3 linked regions of the Homo sapiens genome follow. The protein of the gene in region 1 purifies or fractionates together with the protein of each later gene. This does not show direct contact. Each region holds a gene or a part of one and is shown in the gene's direction. Other genes may lie near its edges.

Region 1 (8,032 bases):
CATTCATCAGGAAGTATATGCCGTGAGGGAAGTGGGGCAGTGGGGCAACATGAGGAGGACAGTGGCACTCAAGACAGTTGACACCAGGACACCCCACCCCCTGATTCCATTGGGAAGTTCAGGAAAGCTCCTTTCGTTTGATGGGCATTTTTCGCTTAATTCCTACATTTTTCAATTTAAGAATTCTGAAAAGTAAAAAATTCTGTCAAGTGAGAGGGATATGCAGTTTAACATGGTGTCTGCTTTAAAAAAAATCTGGTGTGAACATTTTGCATATGTTGTTTAATAAAAACTAGATGATGGAGTGGAAAGAAAGGCTGCACAAGATTATTTTTAGTCTTCATCTAGTAGAAGAGTAGGCTGCACTGTGAATTGGTCAGGAAGCAGAAGAGTCCCTGTTAATTTATTCACCTATTTTTTATTAAAGAGAGAAAGTTGGAAACATACAGGTGTCTAGCTTGTTGTTCAGAGTAAATAATAGTTGTGGCATAGGTATGTATGTATTATTTGTAACATAATATCCAGTCTGGCTGTGGAGCTGTTTGTCTACATAAAGTATGGAAATGTATACATTGTGAGAGCACAGTCTTGGTCCTTGCATGTTCCCTTGGCTTTGAGTGTAAACTTGTTTTTGGCCTTGAGAAGTTCATAGATTGGCTTTAAAAGGATCACTTTATAAGGATTACTTTTTTTTTTTTTTTTTTTTTTGAGACAGAGTCTCGCTCTGTCCACCCACGCTGGAGTGCAGTGGTGTGATCTCGGCTCACTGCAGCCTCCGCCTCCTCAGTTCAAGCAATTCTCCTGTCTCAGCCTCCCAAGTAGCTGGGATTACAGACATCCGCCACCACAGCTGGCTAATTTTTTTTTTATTTTTAATAGAGTTGGGGTTTCATCATGTTGGCCAGGCTGGTTTTGAACTCCTGACCTCAAGTGATCCACCCGCCTCGGCCAGGATACTTTAAATTAAGCACAGATCTTAATTTTGTCACGATGTGGGCCCTTTTCTTTGGTTGTGGTGAAAAGCAGTATTAAGAAAGGTAAATCATTCATCTTTTACCAATAGGCCAGATGCCATGTGAGAATCATCAGCTTGGAAGGTTGGGATTGTGAAGGAGGGCCCAGGAGCTCTATAGCATACCAAACACTCCATTTGTGTACTTTGCAGCTCTTTTCCCTTTTGTCATCTTCACTGTATGCTTAGGGCACCATAATTTCAATTATGCAATTTCCTCTAAAATCTCCCACAAACCTCTTCTGGAGTCTAAGTAACTTGTCATCGCATTTCTGTCATGTGATAGATGTGTTTCTAAAAAATTGGATTCCACTCCTTTTCTTGAATAATCACATGACTTCAGATTATTTAGCATTTTATGACATAAGCAGTTTGATACCTGCTTTGGCCCAGCAGTTTTGGGATGGGGTAGATGTTAATTATCTCCATATGCAGGTAATACAGTAGAATCTTAGGTAGTTCATGGTTCACACAGTTAAATGACTCTCTCAAGGGGTTGACAAGGGATTTGTACTCAAGCTTTGATTCCAAATCTGCTGTTATTTCCTACTGGGAAATGCTTTTTAAAGTTACTTTACAGCAGAACTCTTTGTTAAGCACAGAGTAATTTCATATTTTAAAACATGAGCTTTATGAATTCAGGTTGTGAGAAGAAGGATGTTCTTAAAACAGCACGTATCTCTTTACTTTCCCTTTGATTTTTTTACAATGTTATTTCCATTTCAATGTTATTGTCACTTAACAATGACTTCAAGCTTATTGAGTTATTTTAAGGGATCTTATATGTTTTACACTCTCTCTGATGTTTTCCCCTCAGTCCTTCCTTTAACCCTAATCCATTTCTGTCTTCGTGGTCCGATTACTCCCCACTGAGAGATGTTTAGTAAGTAGTATCTAAACAGTGAGGTAGTTCCATGAATCATGCTATAAATACTTGATTTGGATGTGAGTGTTCTGTAAACTTTGTTTTATCACACATGAATCTAATGTGTTAAGTACTGTGTCCATTCAGTGCCAGCAAATTGTGCCAGTATTAAAAATTTCTGTGGAAAAAAAAAATGCAAACAACACCAGAAACAAGGTTAAAAGACAGATGACAAACTGATGGAAAATTTTCACTCATGTCATAGACAAAATGCTTATTCCCTTAACACATAAAGACCAAAGAGTGCCTAGAAATTAATAAGTTAAAAAAAAAGATGAACAATACCAAAAAATGGATTAAGAATATGAAAAAGGCATTTCACAGTAAAGGAAATGCAAACAGGCCTTAGACATATGAAAAGATGATTAAATTTATCATAGTAAGAGATTTCACATTAAAATCACCTGTGTGATTAGAGATACACTCTGTTGTAAGGCTGCAGGAAAGCAGACATTCTCATATTTTGCTCGTAACTGTGTAAATGAGAACAGTCCCTATGCGGAGAGTGGGTAATTTGGCAACAACTATTCAAATTACAAATACGTTTACTGATTTAAACAACAGTTTTAAACTGTATGATCTCACAGTTCTGAAGCCTGCAAGTCTGAAATCAAGGTGTCAGCATGGTCTTGTTCCCTCTGAAATCTATAGGACCACCTTCCTTGCCTCTTTTTAGCTTTTGGTGATTTTCTGGCAATCTTTGGTAATCCTGGGCTTGCAGCTACGTAACTCCAGTCTCTGCCTTTGTCTTCAGTGTGTTCTCCCTGTTTGTCTCTATGTCTTCACATGGCCATCGTCTCATAAGACACCAGTCATATTGGATTAGGGGCCTACCCTATTCCAATCTGACTTCATCTTAACTAATTACATCTACAGTGACCCTATTTCCAAATATAAGATTACATTCTGAGGTACTGAGGTTTAGGGCTTCATTGTATCTTTTGTGGATGAGGACGCAATTCAACCCATTATGCCTAGCAATCCCACTTTAGTGTTATTCTACAGATACACTGAAACCACCCAAAGGCTCTCAGTAGAGGTTTGGTTAAATACATGCTATACCTCTACAATATGATACTCTACAACTGTAAAACAGAGGAAGTTATGAGCTGACTTGGAAGAGCTTTCATGTCAGGACAACAATGCAGCAGACTACCTTTTGGATAGGAAAGAAAAATAGTATCTCTTCGTATTTGCTTATAGTTGTATGAAGAAACTCTGGAAGAAGACACAAGAAATTAATAAAAGTGATTATTGGAGGAAGGGATAGGGCAGATAGGATTGGAGATGCAAGTAGTACTTTTTATTGTTTTCTTATGTTGCTTTGTGAGTCATGTGGACAAATTACCTGTCTTAAACACTGAAAGGGTTTCATTCATTTGAATTGAATAAAGAACTAATTTTTATGAAATTAACAGGGAATCAGTATATTGTCCCAGTAATCAGCTCCTTACTTTCTTCTCGTCTTTCTCTAAGGCTTTGCTTAATACTTGGAATTTTAGTACCAATGTATCTTGATTCAACTGTCACACACCTGTCCTTAGTAGCATCTTTATGACCATTATTTTTCATTAGTAAAGAAATGTGATCATCCACCCATGCCAGAACCTTTGGTCAGACATGAGAACAAAAGCTAATCAGGCAGGCACTGTTAGGAAGAGGCTGTTAGGAACAATCATTTGATGAGCTTTAGGCAATTTGCATCAAAATGGTCTTACAGCAAGATCCCAGGTAATGAGTCTGTATTTTATCCATCTAAAAATTTAAAATAAGATGCTATGAAAGAAATATTCACAACCTTCAATAGCACATTATTTTTAATTTTTCTTTTTCAAGAATTCCTATAGCAGTTTTAAAGTGAACTTGATTAATGTACCAAGATGAAAATCAGAACTTTTTCCTTAAAAAATAATTATGCTGATAATATCCTTTTTTTCTCCCCTCCCCCCGCAAAAGTTGTTTTTATTTTGATTTGGTACCCACAAGGGTCTAGAAATTTAGATTCAGTCAATTAGGAATATTTCGAGATCTAAGCATCCAACTCTATATATCATTCACCTCTTTCATTTATTTCCCCTCTTCATCATCCTGTTGCCTTGTATTATCGTTCCACAACTAGAAGGATAAGGAAAAGAAATACAGGTCAGCCTCTTCAGCTAATTAGTAGTTTTGGTAAAATATATAGCCAAGGAGATGGCTGATAATATGGCTAAAAGGGATGTTTTTACTTATCTGTGGTTTTTGGTTAGCCAGGTGCACCGAGGTTCCTTTGATGATGGATCATCTATAATGAACAACGTTATCACAGGACATCTTCTCCATAAGCTGCTATTTATTCACTCAAAATATAAATATATTATACACCTTTTATGTAAAAGGCAGTCTAGCTCTCAAGAAGTGTGCAAGCTTGGCAGAGCCAATGAGATACACGTTCAACTAGGACAGAAATACTATCTTAACAAATGTCATTCCCAGAAATAATCAACACAGGTGAAAGAATTAGAGATGGGGAAAAGTCAAAAAATGAGAGAGGGAAAGGTTGCAGTGTGGAAAATAGCATTTAAATTCTAACCAAACTAGAATCAGACATATAGGAAAATCTAAAATAAAATCTGGGAGCCTTGAAGCCGGAGGAAGAATTAAGGAAATCTGTGTTCGGGAGGGAAAAGCAGAAGGGGCCTTCAAGTACAACTGAATTAAATCAAGATGGACTGCCAGTTCTAGAAAAAGACAAGTTTCTCCATTCCCCGTAAATGCTCAGGAGTAAACCCCAGTAGTCACAGCTGGGCCAGTCCCAACTTATACTCTGGGCAATCGAAACTCATTTGCCAAGCAGAGACTTGGACCATACTGCCTAGAACATGCCTACCATTCTTTCTTTATTCTTTTGAAAGAGTACTGCCACTCAAGTGACTTTTGCAATTGAGAGTCTGATTATCATCTCTATGCTGAAAATCCTTCAGATGTTTTCTCCATTAGGAATAATCCTCATCACCAGCTCTAAAGGCCTGCACAGTTGGCCCTTCCCATCCTCTTTAGCCTGTCTTCCTCATTATTTTTCTCCAGCATTTGACCTTCCCTACGTGCTGCCATGCTGCAACCTTGAAGACTTTTGCATGCTCTGACCTCCCTCTGAAAGTGCACCTTCCTCTACTATTTAACTGCTTAATTTCTTCCTCAACCCTAAACTTCTCCTTGATAGCACTTAACACAGTTGAAGTTTTGTATTTTTGTGTGGTTATTGATCATCTCCCCCACTAAAATGTAAGCTTTTAGAAGGGAGAAACCATCTCAGCTTTTGCACGTAGTGGGCTTAAAACATCTTTTGTGAATGGATGCAGACATTTAGGTGCTCATTAGGAAAGCTGAACAGTATGGTGGTTAATTTCAATATCATTTCCACTCATCTACTTACCTGTGGATCCCTCTGTAGTAAGAGTACATTAAATAAAGAAGTTTCTGTTTCTCATGAAAAAAGCCAAGCTTGTATGGTGAGCTGGGCAAAATCTTCAAGGGCACTTCCATCTTTTTTGCTGTGCGGCTATAAGCCCAGTGAAAAATCAGGGGCTTTATTACTAAAGAAAAAGGAGAGGACAGATATCTGGGCAATTTGCAGGCTTTGCAGTAATGCTTTATAAAGGTATTGTAGTAAGGATTAAATATTATATATAAGACTCTCTTAGCATATAGTCAGCACTCAATTAACTATGGCTGTTATTCTCTCTTCAACATATAGAGAATAAATTACTTACCTGAAAGACCTTCCTGCCCTTGGTTCTTTGGGCTTTTTTCAGCTCTTCATTTCTTTGTCTCTTTGTGCATTCATAGGTCAGATTACTTGGTTTACTATGTTTGTATACAGTTTACTGTAAATGTAGGGAGTACATTTCTGTTTTCCTTTTGATAGTTCATGGAGTAGTAGCCCCTCTCTCACGCCATTGGGACTTTGTTCTTCTTAGCCTCTTCATAATTCCTGTTTATGTAAAGTCAGCTTCCCCACAGCCAAGTTAAACTCTCTTAATCAAGTAGAGCCACGGATTTATTTTCTTCTCCTTGTGGGTGGTGCCATTTGAGTGTTGATCTGTCTTTCATAAAGCTGTACCTTGACATGTAAGGGGTCAGTAGTAGGGAGTGAGGAGGGATGTGAAGAGAGAATCAGTGAAAATGAAGTAGGCCAGTGCATGCTTATCTCTGACAGTTCTCTTTATTTCCTGTGAAGGCGATTGACCGAGGCCTGGCTTTTGAACTTGTCTATAGCCCTGCTATCAAAGACTCCACAATGAGAAGGTATACAATTTCCAGTGCCCTCAATTTGATGCAAATCTGCAAAGGAAAGGTATGGTTCTATAATTTTAGGATGTTTTTCGCATCTGGCAGTTTATTATTAGTAGTACACTGGAATTGTCAAACTGACTCCTTTTCCTTAAAGCAGAATGTTCTCATAGCATAGGAACAAATTCTGCCATTTCAGTGAGCTCTGCAAATTTTAAGGGAAAGAAAAATACCAAGGGAAGAATAATGTAAGGGAGAAAAAGATGTGTTGGAAGCCATATCTTTTGATAAAAATTTGCAATTTACATACTGTGAAAGAAAAGTCTAGAATAACAATGGTCCTCACTGAGTTGAATTAAGATATGTGACCTTTTCATCTTGTTTTTTAAACTTAATTCACCTTTACTAAGATCTGTTAGGAAAACATATTTTGTTTTTTATTACAGATTGCCTTTAGTTTGACATGAAGTCTTTTCATTTTTTTCACCTTAATTATTTACCTTATCTTTAAAAGAAGTTGGTATTTGAGCCTTAAATGTTAAAATATGATTACTGGCTATTTATATTATGAAACTCCTTTTTTTACATTTATCTAAGATTAATATTAGTCACTTTCTATTTTGTAGAATGTAATTATATCTAGTGCTGCAGAAAGGGTAAGTCTAGCATGAAGTACTTTGTTTTCATCTTTCAGGTTATAAAACTTTTCAGTTTCTAGGGGATAAATTAAAATAGTAAATGAATATTTGTTGCATTTTTTTCTATTTTAACTGCATTTGCTCATTGTAATTGCTAAATAGTAAAATTTATCCCCACTTTCTTTAGGCTTCAACTTTTGTTTATATAATCAGTTTTTCTTTTATACTGTTACAAAATGCCTTTCAAGCTTCTCTTATATTTTCAAAAGCTATGAAACCCATCAAAATTATAAGGACTTAAATTTATGTAATTTTTTTATTTTTGGATACTTAAATTTTCTATTAATTTGCTATAAGTCATTGAAATGTTATAAATAATTTTCTCATATCTACTCTTTGTTCATTTTATTTCAGCCTTTAGAAATAAGAGGGCCATATGACGTGGCAAATCTGTATCCTTTTCTGAGTAAAAAGTTGTTGACATTGTCTTTCAGGAAATTTTGAATTTGAAGTCGTATTATAGTTGAACATGTATTTTTCTCAACCTTTTACTGTAAGTTTACCAATTAATAACTTCAAAAATAAATTATATAACATTATAGAGAGCTTTATGCTTCTGTTTTTTAATTAATCATGAGATAGAAAAGAGGGAATGAGGGACTTCATATGATAAAAGCTTAGAGTTAAATGAGTCTTTTCTCAGATGCATGTTCCAGTTGGACTAAGAACTGCTGTTGAATTAATTAGCCTCTCAAGATGACCAGGTTAGCTGGCACTTTCTGTTATGTTTGTGTTAGTCTCGTGTCCTTGGGTGACTCTGGGTTGAAATCTTTAATGCTCCCCCAAGAGGCTTGCTGTTTGGGCTCTCTGAAAGTGACGCCAAGGCTGCGGTGTCCACCAACTGCCGAGCAGCGCTTCTCCATGGAGGTAAGCAAGTTCTTCCAGTACAAACTGAATGGTCATGTTAAAAGCAAGTCATTTTTACAGCCATACCTATTTTTATTGCCCTACCCTACAGAGTTCCTTTGGGATCATCTTTTCTCAACCTGTTCTAAACACAGTCATCAGTGTTTTCTCACCCTCACTTCAGGCTTTACTTTCTAAAGTTTGTAGAATGAATATAGTTTTCATTACAGAAATAAGTATTGAATAGTTCTTCCAGCTATACATGTGTGCTCCTGCCGA
Region 2 (7,853 bases), on another chromosome or scaffold:
CTGTACAGTGGCCACATGCTTATCTTGTGGTAGCCCCCATGTGTGTCCTCTCCAGTGAAGATATGAAGAACTCTAGTTACCAGTAGCTCCTCTCATTCTGACACTGCTGGGGCGACTTATGAGCTGGGCATCTTGTCTGGTCTCATCACCGTTATTCCTTTCATCTATTTCAAGGCCTGACACCACTCTGTGAATTACGTGGACAATGGCTGTAGCAGGCACTGTTAAATGTCTTACCAAATTTAACCCTTGCAACAACTTTATGAAGCAAGCCTATGATCCTCATTTAACAGTGAGGAAACTGAGGCTTGGAGAGGTTGGGTAGCTTTTGAATCTTAACCTGGAACTCTGTCTCTGAGAGGTGTATGTTTATCTAGAATTCTACTTTGGACCCCTCTCCGCGCATCCCCAAAGGTCACGTTCCGTTCTGAGTCAGTTTTTTGCTTGATGATAGTAAACTTGCACAAATAGGCTGTTGGTCAGGGAGTGAACTAGCTGGAGCTTGGTCTTCTGCAAGCTTGGTCTTCTGCATGCTTGGTCTTCTGCATGCTTGGTCTTCTGCATGCTTGTTCTTCTGCATGCTTGGTCTTCTGCATGCTTGGTCTTCTGCATGCTTGGTCTTCTGCAAGCTTTGTCTTCTGCATGCTTGGTCTTCTGCATGCTTGGTCTTCTGCATGCTTGGTCTTCTGCATGCTTGGTCTTCTGCATGCTGCAGCTTACCCTTAGCAGATGTTTGGTTTATTGAGTGAGCTGGAGCAGGGGTAGAAACTGACCTTTAATGACCCGGAAGACTGGTTATCTTGTAAAAATAATCCACTAACATCTTGCAGGTGTAATTTCTTGTTTTAAATTTTTCCTCTGTACTTTCTCTTCCAGGTTCTTGCTATGCACTAACATACAATACACATATTGATGAAGATAATACTGTTGCCCTGCTACCAAATGGTAACACTTTATTTTTTCATCTTTCTTTAATTGTTAAAAAAAAATGCATACTGTAAAAAAAAAAAAAAAAAAGTCAGCTGGGCACGGTGGCTCACGCCTGTAATCCCTGCACTTTGGGAGGCCAAAGCAGGTGTATCACCTGAGGTCAGGAGTTCGAGACCAGCCTGGCCAACATGGTGAAACCCTGCCTCTACTAAAAATACAAAAATTAGCCGGCGTGGTGGCTCATGCCTGTAGTCCCAGCTCCTTGGGAGGCTGAGGCAGGAGAATCGCTTTGAACCTGGGAGGCGGAGGTTGCAGTGAGCCAAGATTGCGCCACTGCGCTCCAGCCTGGGAGACAGAATGAGATTGTCTGAAAAAAAAAAAGAAGATATTCAAAAGAATGAGTATACCATGACTTATTTATTTCATCTTTAGTAGAAATTCAGATTATTTTAAATTTCACTATTATAAATAATATCCTTGGATGTATAATGTATAAATAATATCTGTTACAAGACATGTATACACATAAATAATATTCTTGTGATATAAATAAGATCCTTGTATGCAGTTTGTTACATTGATATCTAACTGCTCAATTTGCCTTGCTTTCTTTTAGTCAGACAACGTAAGTTCTAGTTTTGGTATCTTATGGGAGTTATTATTTGATTTATAGGGAAATTAATTTTGTCACTGGATAAAGACACTTATGAAGAAACTGGACTTCAGGGTCATCCATCTCAGTTTTCTGGCAGAAAAATTATGAAATTTAGTAAGTATCATGTGTGTTCCATCTGTTTCTAATCTTCTTGTGGCAATTTAAATTTAAATGTTTGAATTGCCTCTAATCTCTTTGTTCAAAAAAATGTGGCCTTTTAAAAAAAATCTGTCAAACTTCTGACTCGAGCTTCACAGAGGATAGGATGATGCTTTTAAGTTCATTTCTTTTCAGCTGTAGATGCATTTAATAAAGATTGTAGACTTGGACTGGTCAATTAAATATATATGTTTCGGGTTAAACCTTGGCAGGCCAAGGCGGGCGGATCATGAGGTCAAGAGATTGAGACCATTGTGACCAACATGGCGAAACCCCATCTCTGCTAAAAATGCAAAAATTAGCTGGGCGTGGTGGCGCATGCCTGTAGTCCCAGCTACTCAGGAGGCTGAGGCAGGAGAATTGCTTGAACCCGGGAGGGGGAGTTTGCAGTGAGCCAAGATCGCACCACTGCACTTCAGCCTGGCGACAGAGTGAGAGTCCATCTCAAAAAAAAAAAAAAAAAAAAAAAAAATTCCAAGTACTGAACCCAAGATAGGAGTCTACAACTTATTCTTAATAAAGAATTTCCTTTGGTTTCCCCAAGTCTTTATGATTACTAGTAGAAATTCACCCATGAGTGAAGAGATGTTTTGCTGACAGCGTCTGGCTCGAACATCAATAGCTAAGGCCGCCACATCCATAAGTAGATTAAACCTGACCTCTCAAGGTCCTCTGCCCTTGGTCTTTGACCTAGGAAACATATAAATTGAAAATGTCTGTTTTTATTAGCTCTCAAGGTTAGAAGTGCCCACCAAAGGGATCTTATTTATTTGGCAAACCAAAGGGAGTGGAAGAAGAATAAAATAATTTTACTATCCATAAAATTTCCCAAAATTCTAGTTTTTAAAAATGTAACACTTTTTCCATGGTAGAAGCTGTACGTATATGAATGAAATATATGTTCTTTTTTTCATTTTTAAAGTTGTTTCCATTGATTTGATGGAATTATCCTTAAACTTGGATTCTAAGAAGTATGAAAGAATATCTTGGTCTTTCAAAGAAAAGAAGCCATTGAAATTTGATTTTCTTTTGGCTTGGCATAAAACAGGTATGAGGAATAAATTATGTAATGATACAGTGATTTTGAAAGTAATTGTTAATTAAAGAGGAGTAATGGAGGATTGAATGGTGATTCACTCTTTAGTCAAGGAATATTCTATACGTATATATAAAAATATTATTAAGGAAACTAGCCCTTCTGACATCTCTGAAAACCATAGTTCAGGATCATGTAGGCACGCAGGCCTTTCTGCCTGCGTCTCTTTGGGTTATATGTAGATCCAGAGATCTTGAGAGTGGCTTCAGAGCAGCTAAATTTTATCTATTTCTCCCCTTTCCTCTCTCCAGCTTACCTTGAACAGCCTTGACTATAATATTTTTAAGTAGCACCAATTATATACACAATCTGCTTATTTATTATCACAGGGTACTGACTCAGGCCTACCATTAAATGTCAGATGAATTTATTCTAACTTTTAATTGATTAGGACACTAAATTTAGTTCAAAGTTTGCTATTCACCACACAGCGTAATCTGCCTAAAACGGCCATGTATGTTGCTCCTTTTAGAAGTGTATCTTTGACCCAGATAATAATGGATCAAGTCATCAGGAATTATGGTGTAGTACTCTCTTTTGGAGGATAGGAAGCATGGTGGTCTGTTTTAGAAATAGCCCCATCTGTCTGCTCCTCATGGGAAGTGTCTCGTCACTGGGTGCTCCAAGTTGCTCCCATGAGTCCTAGGTCTGGCCTTCGGTGCCTCTCCTTCCATATATGGTAGATAGAAAAGAGGGCAGAAAGGCTTATTGAAGTTTCAGTTGCGTGAAGTCTTCTATGCAGATCATCCAGACGTTGGATTCTGGATAGCTCCCTATTCCTAAAGCTCCTAACTATTTTAAGGATTTGTCAGGACTGTGAAAGTTCTGAGATTTCCTCATACTTGCAGGCTAACTAGGTAGCCTGCTACAGTCTCAGGGATGCTGGCAGAAGACACATAAGCCCTGGGTCAGAGACACAGGACTTAATTCCTCAGAGGAATGGTAGTAGCCAAAATGTATTAGTCAGGGTTCTCCAGAGAGAAAGGACCAATAGGATGGATGGATGGATGGATGGATGGATGAGAGGAGATTTATTAGGGAAATTGATCATGCAGTTATGGAGGCTGAGGAGTCCCACGACAGGCTGTCTGCAAGTGGGAGACCCAGGGATGCTGGTAGCCTGGCTCAGTCCAAATATGAAGGCCTGAGAATCAGGAAAGAAGATGGTATAATTCTCAGTCCAAGGCCAAAGCCTGACAACCTGTGGATCTGCTGGTGCAAGCCCCAGAGTCCAAAGGCTAGAGAACCTGGAGTTCTGCTGTCCAAGGGCAGGGGAAGAAGGGAGTCCCAGCTCCAAGGGACAGCGAATTCACTGTTCCTCTGACGTTTTGTTCTACCTGGGGCCCTAGCCGGGTAGATGGTGCCACCCACAGTGAGGGCAGATCTTCCCACTCAGTTTACCCACTCACCTGCCAGTCTCCTCCAGAAACACCCTCACAGACACACCTAGAAATAATGCTTTACCAGCCATCTAGATGACCCTTCATCCAGTCAGGTTGACACCTAAAATTAACCATCACACCGAATATCACCATTTGCACCAGTTCACCAAGTCCCATTTCCAGAGTGACACCAAGCGATGCTGGCACATGCAGTAGGTTGCATTACAGGAGAGGAACCTGGAGTTTAAGAACTCCAGTCCTTTGTAAGGGACAGTAAGCCTGCTGATATCTGCCCGGAGAGAGGGAGGGTGACATTATTTCTATTATACTGGACAGTAAGCAAGCCTGCCCTTTGCCGTGGAGGGAGTACTATCTCTGTCTTCCAAGGCCGTTGGCTACACAAACATCCCTGAAAAGATACGCTGGATTTTATTGGGTTTTCAAAGTCAAGCTGGGATGAGGTTCAATCACCATTCAGTTTCTCTTCTTTTTCTTTAATAGAGGTTGTGCAGATAAGCTCCTTCTCTCTGGAGTTCACTAATATTATTCATACATCAGGAATGCTTTTGGTTTTAAGTGTGAAGTTGAAATTTTTTTATTAGCACAAACAGTGAAACTAGTTTGGGTCTGATCAGAAACTGTTGTGCTTTTCCAGGAAAAGTGTGAAAAACGATGAACGTTTACAGAACTTGAGCAAAAGGAGCTGAAAGCAGCTTTAAATGATTTTAATTTGAATGCAGCTCTGCACAGCTTCCATCTTACTCAATCTTACCGCTCAGATGGGAATGGGTGGGTTCAGGTATTCACTAAACTTGCTTACGATGGTCAGATGGATTCAAATGGCCTTGTGTGGTGTGTTTTTAAGGTTCAGAAGAATCGACAATGATGTCATATTTTTCCAAGTACCAAATTCAGGAGCATCAGCCAAAAGTAGCACTGAGCACGTTGAGAGATCTCCAGTGCCCAGTGCTGCAGAGCAGCGAGCTGGAGGGAACGCCAGAGGTGTCCTGCCGGGCTCTGGAGCTCTTCGACTGGCTCGGCGCCGTCTTCAGTAATGTCGACCTGTGGGTATCTGAACTCCCTGTGTCTTCCAGGGCTCTGGCCTGCTGCTTGTTTTTAATAGGAGTTTAATACTTTGGAAGTGATCATGTGATGGATATACATGTGTTATCTCTCTCTCTTTTATTTTTTTGGTGACAGAAATAATGAGCCTAATAATTTCATATCAACCTATTGCTGTCCTGAGCCAAGCACAGTGGTGGCAAAAGCTTATTTGTGTACAATCACTGGCTTCATACTTCCAGAGAAGATCTGTCTCCTATTGGAACATCTCTGGTGAGAACTCTTTACCTTTTATATCGCTCATCAGTGCTCTATAGAACAGTATGTCGAATAGTATAGATTTTTTCATTTTGGGAGGTGGTATATAAATAAAATGTACATTGAAAGGAACTCAAATCGCCTATTGCAAAGACCGTACATTGAGTATAATCCTATTTAGTAAGCATATCTTCTCAGTCTTCCCTTTTGAAATGTCAGATTTAAGTCTTGAAGGTTTTCCTTTTTAAGCCCAACATCCTTTTTCACATTTATTGGTTTAGTACTTTGACTTTCTTCGATAGGAAGGCTGGATATGAAAAATCTGGTGAATTATCCTGCAACGTTTCAGTTAACTGAGACTCTGAGAACAGTACTCTTAATAGGAGGGAAAGGATCCTTAAACGCCTGTGGGGTTTTTTGTTTTGGGTTCTTTTTGTCTTAAAGACCTCCCAGAATGAGGGTGGGAACAGCTGAGGTTTGTTTCATGTGTTGTATATTAGTTAATCCTTATGGAGTTCACAGTGTGACATCAGGAACTTATCACACACCTCTTGATTTTCAAAAATTAAAGCTAAGATCTAAGCTTTATTAGAATATCAGAAATACTACTTATCCTGAATAAATTTTTTAAAATGCAGACATTCCTAACTCTCTTTTAAAACTCTGTTTAACAACTACCTTTTTTTCAGTCACTACTTTGATGAACCGAAGTTAGCTCCATGGGTTACACTGTCCGTTCAAGGCTTTGCAGACAGCCCTGTTTCTTGGGAAAAAAATGAACATGGTTTTCGAAAAGGAGGAGAACATTTATATAACTTTGTGATTTTTAATAATCAGGACTATTGGCTTCAGATGGCTGTTGGGGCAAATGATCACTGTCCACCATAAAAAATAAAAATTAAAAATCGTGTTTACTTACATTTACGCTTGCTTTCAGATTTCTTAATGGTAAAAGGTCTGTGTGTCCACTCAGGCTTGTGTGATGGTGACATTTCTCAGATCAGCATTTGCTGGCATCCTGCCCTGCACCTGAGACCCATCTGTGATGGCAGCAAGGCCTGCTGTCCAGTGAATAGCTCATAGTTGATTTCTCTCTGTCAACATAAGCACAGGGTTGTGGGTTACTATGTGGTACACTGGGCCAGGATGTCCAGGGACCGGGGATATTGGTCCCCATCTCACTCCATTGGTTGAGATATATTTTGTTCATTACAACTTTTTCAGATAATAAAAAGAAATCTCATCCTTACCAGGGCCAGTCCCTGTTGTAAGTGCTGTTTATATATTACCATGTTAGAATCTCACACCAACCCTTTGAGGAAACTGAGGCACAGTGTGTAAATACACTACCGAAGTTATAGTGGCAGTGGACCTGAGACTTGATCTCAGGCCAGCCTAGTTCCTAAGTGTGTTCTCACGCTAATGCCTCTGGATCAGAGAGGGATCAATGGATACTGTAAATCGTTACAGAACAGGTTGAAAGAATTTTATTTCCAGCAGTAAGGCTGATAAGGACCAGTTGAAAACAACTAAAACTTTAGAATACATATGAAGAACCATTTTTTTTTTATTATACTTTAAGTTTTAGGGTACATGTGCACAACGTGCAGGTTAGTTACATATGTATACATGTGCCATGTTGGTGTGCTGCATCCATTAACTCATCATTTAACATTAGGTATATCTCCTAATGCTCTCCCTCCCCCCTCCCCCCACCCCACAACAGGCCCCGGTGTGTGATGTTCCCCTTCCTGTGTCCATGTGTTCTCATTGTTCAATTCCCACCTATGAGTGAAAACATGCGGTGTTTGGTTTTTTGTCTGAAGAACCATTTTTTTAATGTAAAAAACAAGAGCTGCAAAATAAGAGTTCTTAAAGGGAAAAAAAAATTTTTTTTTTTGTAAATGGAAGCAGAAACCCAAAGAAGTAAGTGGAGTACTGACGCCACTTTTCCGCCTTAGTGCATCTGCCAAATGCCAAATTGAAGTTTTCTTCTCATAGCCTGGGGTGGGAAGGGGCTGCAGAACAGCACACAAAGCTCAGGGCCTGCCCAAGGGAGGAAAACTAACAGGAGACCTCATAAAGTGAGACTCCAAAAGGATAGATGCAATGTAGGGGTAAACTAGGAATAAATCCATCTGCTTCACCCATCCCCCCAACCCCTGTGAACAGCAAGGAAGATTTCTGTCCTGGGGGAAAACATCTTACTTGAGAGCCTATATATAACCACAGGATTTATATATAACAGCAGTTTTTAGGGTGGCTTGTTTGCACCACCTGGATAGTCTTAAAAAATCTCAAGAGGGAAATT
Region 3 (7,962 bases), on another chromosome or scaffold:
AACTGCACATTTTCTCGTGGATAGCCATGGACAATCTCAAACTCAGTATATCGAAAGTTATCTTATCACCCTTGCCACCTCCCTAAATCTATTTTTCTTCTGAATGTCATATTTCGAACTTAAGGTGAAAATCTGGAAGTCATTTGTATTAGTCCATTCTCACATTATTATAAAGAACTACCTGAGATTGGGTAATTTATAAATAAAAGAAGTTTAATTGACTCACAATTCTGCAGGCTGTACAGGAAGCACAACTGGGGAAGCCTCAGGAAACTTACAATCATGGAGGAAGGTGAAGGGGAAGCAGGCACATCTTACATGGCCAGAGAAGGAGAGCAAGCGAGCAAAGAGGGAGGTGCTACACACTTTTAAACAACCAGATGTCCTGAGAACTCACTATCATGAGAACAGCAAGGGAGATTTCTGCCCCTACTATCCAATTGCATCCCACAAGGCCCCTCCTCCAACATTGGGGGTTATAATTCAACATGAGATTTGGGTAGGGACACAGACCCAAACCATATCATCATTCTAGACATGTAAATATGTAAATAGGTTGAGCATCTTTAAACTGAAAATCCAAAATCTGAAGTGCTCCAAAATGCCAAACTTTTTGAGTACTGACATGATGATACAAGTTACCCTGAACACATTAATTTTCACTGTATTAATGGTATATCATTTTTTTTACTATTAAGCACATATGTGTGAATAAGAGAAAAAAATGGTTGCTTAACAGCAGCATATAGGCTGGGTGCGGTGGCTCACACCTGTAATCCCAGCACTTTGGGAGGCCAAGGCGGGCAGATCACAAGGTCAGCAGATCGAGACTATCCTGGCTAACACAGTGAAACCCCGTCTCTACTAAAAATACAAAAAAACATTAGCCAGACATGGTGGTGGGCACCTGTAGTCCCAGCTACTCGGGAGGCTGAGACAGGAGAATAGTGTGATCTTGTGAGGTGGAGCTTGCAGTGAGCCGGGATCGTGCCACTGCACTCCAGCCTGGGCAACAGAGTGAGACTCTATCTCAAAAAACAAACAAACAAACAAACAAACAAACAAAAAAACAGTAGCATATAAATTCAGAGTCAGGAATGATGTTGACACCAAACAACCACAGACTGTCCACATGGGTGATTGAGATGTACACAAACTTTGTTTCATGCACAAAATTATTAAAAATATTACATAAAAGTTTCTTCAGGCCATGTGTTTAAGGTAGATATGAAACATACATACATTTCATGTTTATACTTGGGTCCCATACCCAAGATATCTCATGTATATTTGCAAGTATTCCAAAATCTAAAAAAAACCGGAAATCTGAAACAATTTTGGTCCCAAGCATTTCAGATAAGGGACACTCTCCACCCATGCTAGACATCTAAATAAGTCATACTGTCTATATCCAGTAGAAATGCTTGAAGGTTTGGGTCTGCATCATTTCTGGCCTTAGCTTTTGTAATAGAACAGATGGGCCTGGTCTCCTTACTTCCAACCTCTTCTCTCCCAAATCTGTTCTCCAGGGTGCTCTTCTTCTGAGGCAAGCTGACAAAAATTGCTCTGCCTAAGACTCAGTGAGTGACTCCTTTATCACCTATAGCAAGGACACGTCAACCTAGAGTACCATCACAAAGACCTTTTCAAAACAGACCTACTCAGAACTAATGAGTAAGAATTTTCAAGTGGGACCTGAAAATCTCTATTTTTAAGTTATCCAGGCAATTTTGATAATCAGCCAGGTTTCTGAACTACTGGTCTTCAGGTAAAAAGCCAAATTCTTCCCATGATCTGACTGACACCACTATTCCCAGCTCCACCCCTCAGCACAAATCACGTCCCAGCAGTACCAACTCAGGACTAGTGATTCTTCAAACCCATGCTGCTTAAAACCTCTCTGTAGGAATATCCTTTTTCCTTTAACTGCCTGGGGAGTTCCTATTCATCCTTCAAAAGACTCTATTCAAGCATCATCCAACCTCATATACAGCCAGTAAATATCTACTGAGGCCCTACTATATGCCAGGCTCTGAACTAAGCATTGAGATAGAAAGACCAGTTAGCTATGTCAATGGTAGTTCTCGCTTTCAGTAGGTTCATATGCCATTGGAGAAATAGACATGAAAGTAAACAAAGAAATACAATAAAGCGAGGTAAATTCTGTGAGAGAGGCTGTGGTAGGCTGAATAAAGATCCCTCCACCTCCCACCCAAAGATGTTCACATGCTAATTTCCATAATCTGTAAATATGTTACCTTGCACTGAGAAGGGATTTTGTAGCTATATAACCTTGAGATTTCAGCTGCTTGAGATTTCAGCACCCCAGCATTTTTGTGTGTGTGTGTGTGTGTGTGTGTGCATGAAATAATGAAAATTTTGAACAGGCCCTTGCTTGCTTGTACATGTTAACCACTCGCTTTTTGCCCAGTATTCCTTGTTCCCACAATGTAATTATAAACTGCTGATGTACTGTTTCTTTGTCAAGCAGAAGGAGATAACTTCAGGGTCATAAGAATAGTTTGCAGAAGGAATGAATTCCTGGAAGGACATTGCAACCAGCTGCCATGTACATACGGCTGCACAAGGTGTTACCTGAAATGGAAGAAACACAGACTTTTCCCTTGGATTCCTTGAAACTCCCTCTCCATTACTCTCTAGCTCCATAAAAACTCCCTGCTTCTTTTTTGTTACTGTGGATCTGAGAGATCTTGCTCTCTTGCCCTCTAACTTTGGTCAAATCGAATAAATATTTCTCTGTCTCCAAGCACCAGTATCTCAATATTTGGCATCAGCTGCCCATCGGGTACATGAGCCTGAATTTGGAGTTCTAAAACAGATGTGATTAAGTTAAAGATTCTGAGATGGAGTGACTATCCTGATTATCTTGATGGGCTCAATGTAATCACAAGGGTGTTTTTAAGAGGGAGGCAGGCAGGAGGGTGAGAGAGACAGAGGAAGAGGAGGAGACTGAAAAATGTCATGCTGACAATGAAGGTGGAGGATAGTGAAATGAGCCAAGGAATGAAGGCAGCCTCTAGAAGCTGGAAAAGGAAAGGAAATGAATTCTTCCCTAGAGATTCCGGAAGGAACCAGCCCTGCCAACTTCAGTCCATTGAAATTAATTTTGGACTTCTGACCTCCAGAAATGTAAAATAACTTCTACTTATTTCAAGCCATTAGGTTTGTCGTAATTGGTTACAGCAGCAATAGAAAACTAATACATAGGCCAACATAGGGCACTGTGGTAACACATTAAAGGGGCCTCTGTATCAAGTTATGGAGTGAGGACGGGGTGTTTAGGAAGAATTACCCCAAGTGACGACCCCAGAGCTGAGGAAAGGAGATTGTGTTTCCGAGGATGACCCAGGTAGAGTAGGTAGATGTGTAAAGGCGCACAGAAAGAGCATGGAAAGTGTTTCAATAAAGTAAGACTGCTTGCATGAAATAGTAGTAATAACATCAACAATATTAACTATGGTAAATGTTCATTGTTTGTATGCCAGGAGTGCCTTGGCATTTTACAAGTCTGTGAGATTGATACTATTATTATCATCTTCATTTTACCCACAGGGATACTAAGGTCTGGAGGAGGAGGTAAGTAAATTTCCTGAGATCACCGAGCTAGTAAACAGCAAAGCTAGAACTAGAACCTTGGCAGTCTGTTTCCAAAACTCACTGTTTTTCTAATACGTTACTGTGGGAGTGTTAAGAACTTAAGGGGGCATTAGCATGGCTGAGGATAAATGAATTATTAGAAAGATATTAATGAGGTAAGGATCACTAGAGCTTGGAATATGATCTTGTCTTGGAGACTGACAAAAGTGGGAATGACTGACAGGTGTCTTCCAAGTTTCTTTGATGTGATCTCGGTTTTGCTGTGGTTCAAGACATAAAGGAGCCTTCCTTTACCACTCAAAGCAAATCACTGCTTCTTCGCTACAAATTCCACACCTTGCACAAACCTCTTCATTTCATTTCTTCCTTTTTCCCCTAATGTCTGAGGCAGAGTTGGGGGTAAAAGCACCAACTCAATTCTGGGCCTCATTTTCCATATTTGTAAAATGCCTAGAAGTATTTAACAGTTCCAAACTTGGTTGTGCTTCCGAATCCCCTGCGCTAAGTTTAAACAAAACGCAGATTCCTCATCGCATTCTCAGAGATTCTGTTGGTTAGTATTGGGATGGGGCCTTTTTTCCCCCATGATTCTACGCGGCCACGTGTTGGTAACCAATATACAGATGACTGGGTCCTTCCCAGTCCCACGCGTTTACTCGATGAAGGCAGCCTCCCGCCGGGCTCCTGGCCCCGCCCGAGCCCCACCCCCTGCTCCCTTCCGGCCCGGACTGGGTCCCATCGCCCCACCTCCGGTCGCTGGACGTGCTCTCGCGTAGCTCCGCCTTTCGTAAGTCCCCCCGCCTCGCATGATGGCTGCGGTGCCGCCGGGCCTGGAGCCGTGGAACCGTGTGAGAATCCCTAAGGCGGGGAACCGCAGCGCAGTGACAGTGCAGAACCCCGGCGCGGCCCTTGGTGAGTGAGGCGCCGGGCGAGGATGGGGGAACGTTTCCGGGGGAGGCCGCCAGGCCCAGCCGGCGCATGTGGGCGGGGGTGGTACCGGGACTTCCCGGCCCGGGGGACGCTGGGAAGGGGCGCGGGGCACGTAGGGGTCGAGCGGTCCCAGCACTTTGCTGGTGTAGCTTGTAGGGCCTCTGGCTTCGCATTCCTTCATTGAACCAGCTGTGCTAACCCAGGGCTTGGCTGGAGAGATGAAAGACCAAGGCTCAGCCGTGCGCTGAGGGGGCGGAGAGAGGTGGACTCAGCTGGTGCCGGGGAACAGTGCTGCCTGGGAACCCTTGCTCACCCGGGTCTTCGGAGTCTTGTTTACCCTTCCGTCCATTTCCCCTTTCCTTCTTTTTCCTGTACCCGAGGAGCGGTGGACGTCACCTAAGCACTGGGACTCAAACTGCAATCTTTTCGGACCTCTATCTGCTTATCTGTGAAATGGAGTTAGTCCTCCTACTCCTCACAGGGGCGTTGGGAATATCTAATGATGTAATTTAGGAGACAGTGCGCTGTAAACGACGGTGTTTTGCCACCTAAATGGGTGGTATTTGTTAGGGTGAAGGGCATATAGTAGGTAGGAGCCTGGCGCAGGAGCCAGGTTGTTTGGGTTTGAATACTAGCTCTACCCTTTGCTGGAGCTTGAAGGAGTCATTGAACCTTTCTGTGCCTCACTGATCTCACTTTCAAATGGAGATAAAAGCACCTTCCTCATAGGGCTGTTTGGGGGGATGAAAGAGTTGATAATGTAGAGAAAGCATTTGGAACACTGCCTGGCATGGTAAATGAACACTCAAATGGAAGCTGTTATGAATATTAAATACGTAGCTCCGGGGCCCAAGGGAGAGAATACAGTCATGGGTTCTTTGTTTCCGGTTGGGCTGGTAAAGCCCTTTCCTCATCCCTCTTTTCACTAGAGACAAACTAAAAACCATGGCTTTAAGCTGCAAAAAGCCTAAAACAAAACAGAACAGAACAACAAAATAAGGCGGGTTGGACAAGCTTGACTTAGATCATCACATCCCCTTTCCCATATATCCATCCTACACACTTTACAGATTATCCCATCTATCCTTCCTACACACTTTACAGATTAATCTTCCCTCTTTCTCTATTCAAAAATTCTTTAACAACTCCTATTAGGCCTGGGAAATTCACCAACTCACTACCCATCCCCGAGGCAGCCCATTCTGTCTTCAGGTAGTTGTTGGGACAGTAAGAAAATTCTTGTTAGGTAGCAACCAGCCTTTACTTCCATTTAGAATGCTAGTGCTGCCTTTAGAGCCATAAATAACACATGAACTACATCTTAGGGACTTCTACAGATTTTCAGACTAGGAAGCATCTGCTGATGAGCACCCGGTGTTCATCAAATAATACGATTTCCAGTTACTGTGGTGGTTTTTCTTTTCTGAATATGTTTGTGTCTCTCATAAAGTGATATCCAAACACAGAAGCCTTGATTTTGAAGACTGTGAATTTATTCATTCTGTCTTGCTTTCGGGCATAGCGACATGGGGAGTTAGAGAGTTATTACACATGTTGTGACATGTGCCCTACCTTCAAGGTGGGGGTTAAGTGTACACATGAGGCGTAAGTGTACACCAAATGACTGACAGCAAAGTATTCATATGAAAGATTATTAAACCATGATAAAATGCAATGCAAAGATACAGCTTCTTGTTTTACAGATGTTCTCTTAATGATTTCCTGGACTTTATATCATCTGTTACCATTTTCCAACTTCTCTTATACTTAGAATCCTTACGTTCTTACAGTTGAGACTGATTACATTAGTTTTTGATTCCTTTAAAACAAATAAGGAAAGATGCTTTTTTTAGTGTGTTTTTAATATAATATACTTACTGTAGAAATACATACTAAATCTTATTAGATGTCTCTGCTTCAGACCTTTGCATTGCAGCTGTAATTAAAGAATGCCATCTCGTCATACTGTCGCTGAAGAGCCAAACCTTAGATGCAGAAACAGATGTGTTATGTGCAGTCCTTTACAGCAATCACAACAGAATGGGCCGCCACAAACCCCATTTGGCCCTCAAACAGGTGAGGAAGCCCGGTAGGTGAGACCCAACCTGTTCACTTGAAAATGTAGATCACACTGCCACTTACTATATTGCTATTTATGGAAATCTCGTGGAAATCTCAGTAAATTACTTGTGTTTTATAGGCCTATAGCCCACAGTTACATGTGCACTTTCTTTTTTTTTCCTAAAAGCATTTCAGCATTTCAAAAAGTAATTTTTGTTAGAAAAGAAGTATGTTTAGATTCTTTCCCAGTCTTGTTTCTAATAGGCAAGTAAACATTTTCTTCATTATATACAATCTATAACAACAGTGCCTTTGCCCAGCTCAAAGATAAAGTGATTTGAGCAAGACAAAATGTTGGACATTAAGAAACAGTTCCCTGGGCATAATCAGAATGCTAAAATTATTTTTAAAAAAACTTGTCTACTTATTATGGGGTACATAATCTAATTGGTGGTATGTTAGAGTAAATGGGTACATAGCAAGTTGTGGTGTAAACTGGTTTCATGTAATGTTTGGAGCTTAAGACAAAATTGGGCCCTCCAGCTCAGGGGCTATACCATAGAGTAGAGCCTCTCTTAAGCTGGCTTCCTGATATGCTCATTCATTCATTCACTTAATTCTGCAAGTATTTTCTGGAAGTTCAGAAGGCTATCCATTGTGTGACAGGGCTACCTTGCAAGTGTTTTTGAACTTTCTGTGTGCCAGGCATTCTGCTTAGTGCTGTGTATAGAGGAGTGAAAAAGGTAGACACAGTCTCTAACCTTATAGATGCATGCTTTCTGGTTAGTTTTCTACCCCTAGTACTTAAAGCAAACAGGGTGAAGATTTCATCAAAGAAAGATCTGGGACCATGGTCTTTCCCTAAATTTTCCATTCTAGGGTGGCTTTTATCTTTTTCGGAGTCTTTTTGATCCAAAAGCAAGCTTGCTAACCCTCAAAGTGAATATATTTCTCCTTCTAGCTTCTGGGTTGTGAATAATCACCCCGTCATCAAAATTTGGCATTCTCTAGTCTCTCTCTCTTACGTAGCTCTCCCATCCAGGCAGTCCATAAGACAAAACTTCCTCTGCATCTGGTCCCCTCTTCAGTTCTGGCTGCCATTTTCCTTTCTTAGACCTTGTCAACTTTTAGTTGTCTTACTATCATAACTGATGTTTCCTCCTTCAGCTTTTCCTAAGTTCTGGCATATTCTAAATATTAAAACCAGGTTAATCATCTGAAAACACAACTTTGATTTTTAGTCGTTCTCCATTGTGTCCTGAGTAAAGACCAAACTTCTTAGTTTGGCTTACGAGATCTGTGATCTGGCCTCTTCAGTCTTCTTAGTTCGGGCTTCTCTCTTGCGTTCAGATA

What was found.
Region 2: the proteins of RPP30 (region 1) and RPP40 purify together in Homo sapiens (affinity purification with mass spectrometry; 4 studies listed by BioGRID and IntAct, with this or other methods). This does not show direct contact.
Region 3: the proteins of RPP30 (region 1) and RMP64 purify together in Homo sapiens (affinity purification with mass spectrometry; 4 studies listed by BioGRID and IntAct, with this or other methods). This does not show direct contact.

The regions. Positions count from the first base shown.
Region 1 is NC_000010.11:90,888,619-90,896,650, forward strand, and holds part of RPP30 (ribonuclease P protein subunit p30), read left to right. Parts: intron 1-6,156; coding exon 6,157-6,273; intron 6,274-6,835; coding exon 6,836-6,865; intron 6,866-7,261; coding exon 7,262-7,299; intron 7,300-7,694; coding exon 7,695-7,774; intron 7,775-8,032. UniProt on the Homo sapiens protein: Component of ribonuclease P, a ribonucleoprotein complex that generates mature tRNA molecules by cleaving their 5'-ends. Also a component of the MRP ribonuclease complex, which cleaves pre-rRNA sequences.
Region 2 is NC_000006.12:4,993,655-5,001,507, reverse strand, and holds the end of RPP40 (ribonuclease P protein subunit p40), read left to right. Parts: intron 1-876; coding exon 877-945; intron 946-1,603; coding exon 1,604-1,699; intron 1,700-2,666; coding exon 2,667-2,792; intron 2,793-5,087; coding exon 5,088-5,286; intron 5,287-5,422; coding exon 5,423-5,557; intron 5,558-6,231; coding exon 6,232-6,430; 3' UTR 6,431-6,791; downstream 6,792-7,853. UniProt on the Homo sapiens protein: Component of ribonuclease P, a ribonucleoprotein complex that generates mature tRNA molecules by cleaving their 5'-ends. Also a component of the MRP ribonuclease complex, which cleaves pre-rRNA sequences.
Region 3 is NC_000003.12:113,016,110-113,024,071, reverse strand, and holds the start of RMP64 (nucleolus and neural progenitor protein), read left to right. Parts: upstream 1-4,400; 5' UTR 4,401-4,424; coding exon 4,425-4,530; exon of another isoform or gene 4,531-4,554; intron 4,555-4,662; exon of another isoform or gene 4,663-5,006; intron 5,007-6,469; coding exon 6,470-6,624; intron 6,625-7,962. UniProt on the Homo sapiens protein: May play a role in cortex development as part of the Notch signaling pathway. Downstream of Notch may repress the expression of proneural genes and inhibit neuronal differentiation thereby maintaining neural progenitors.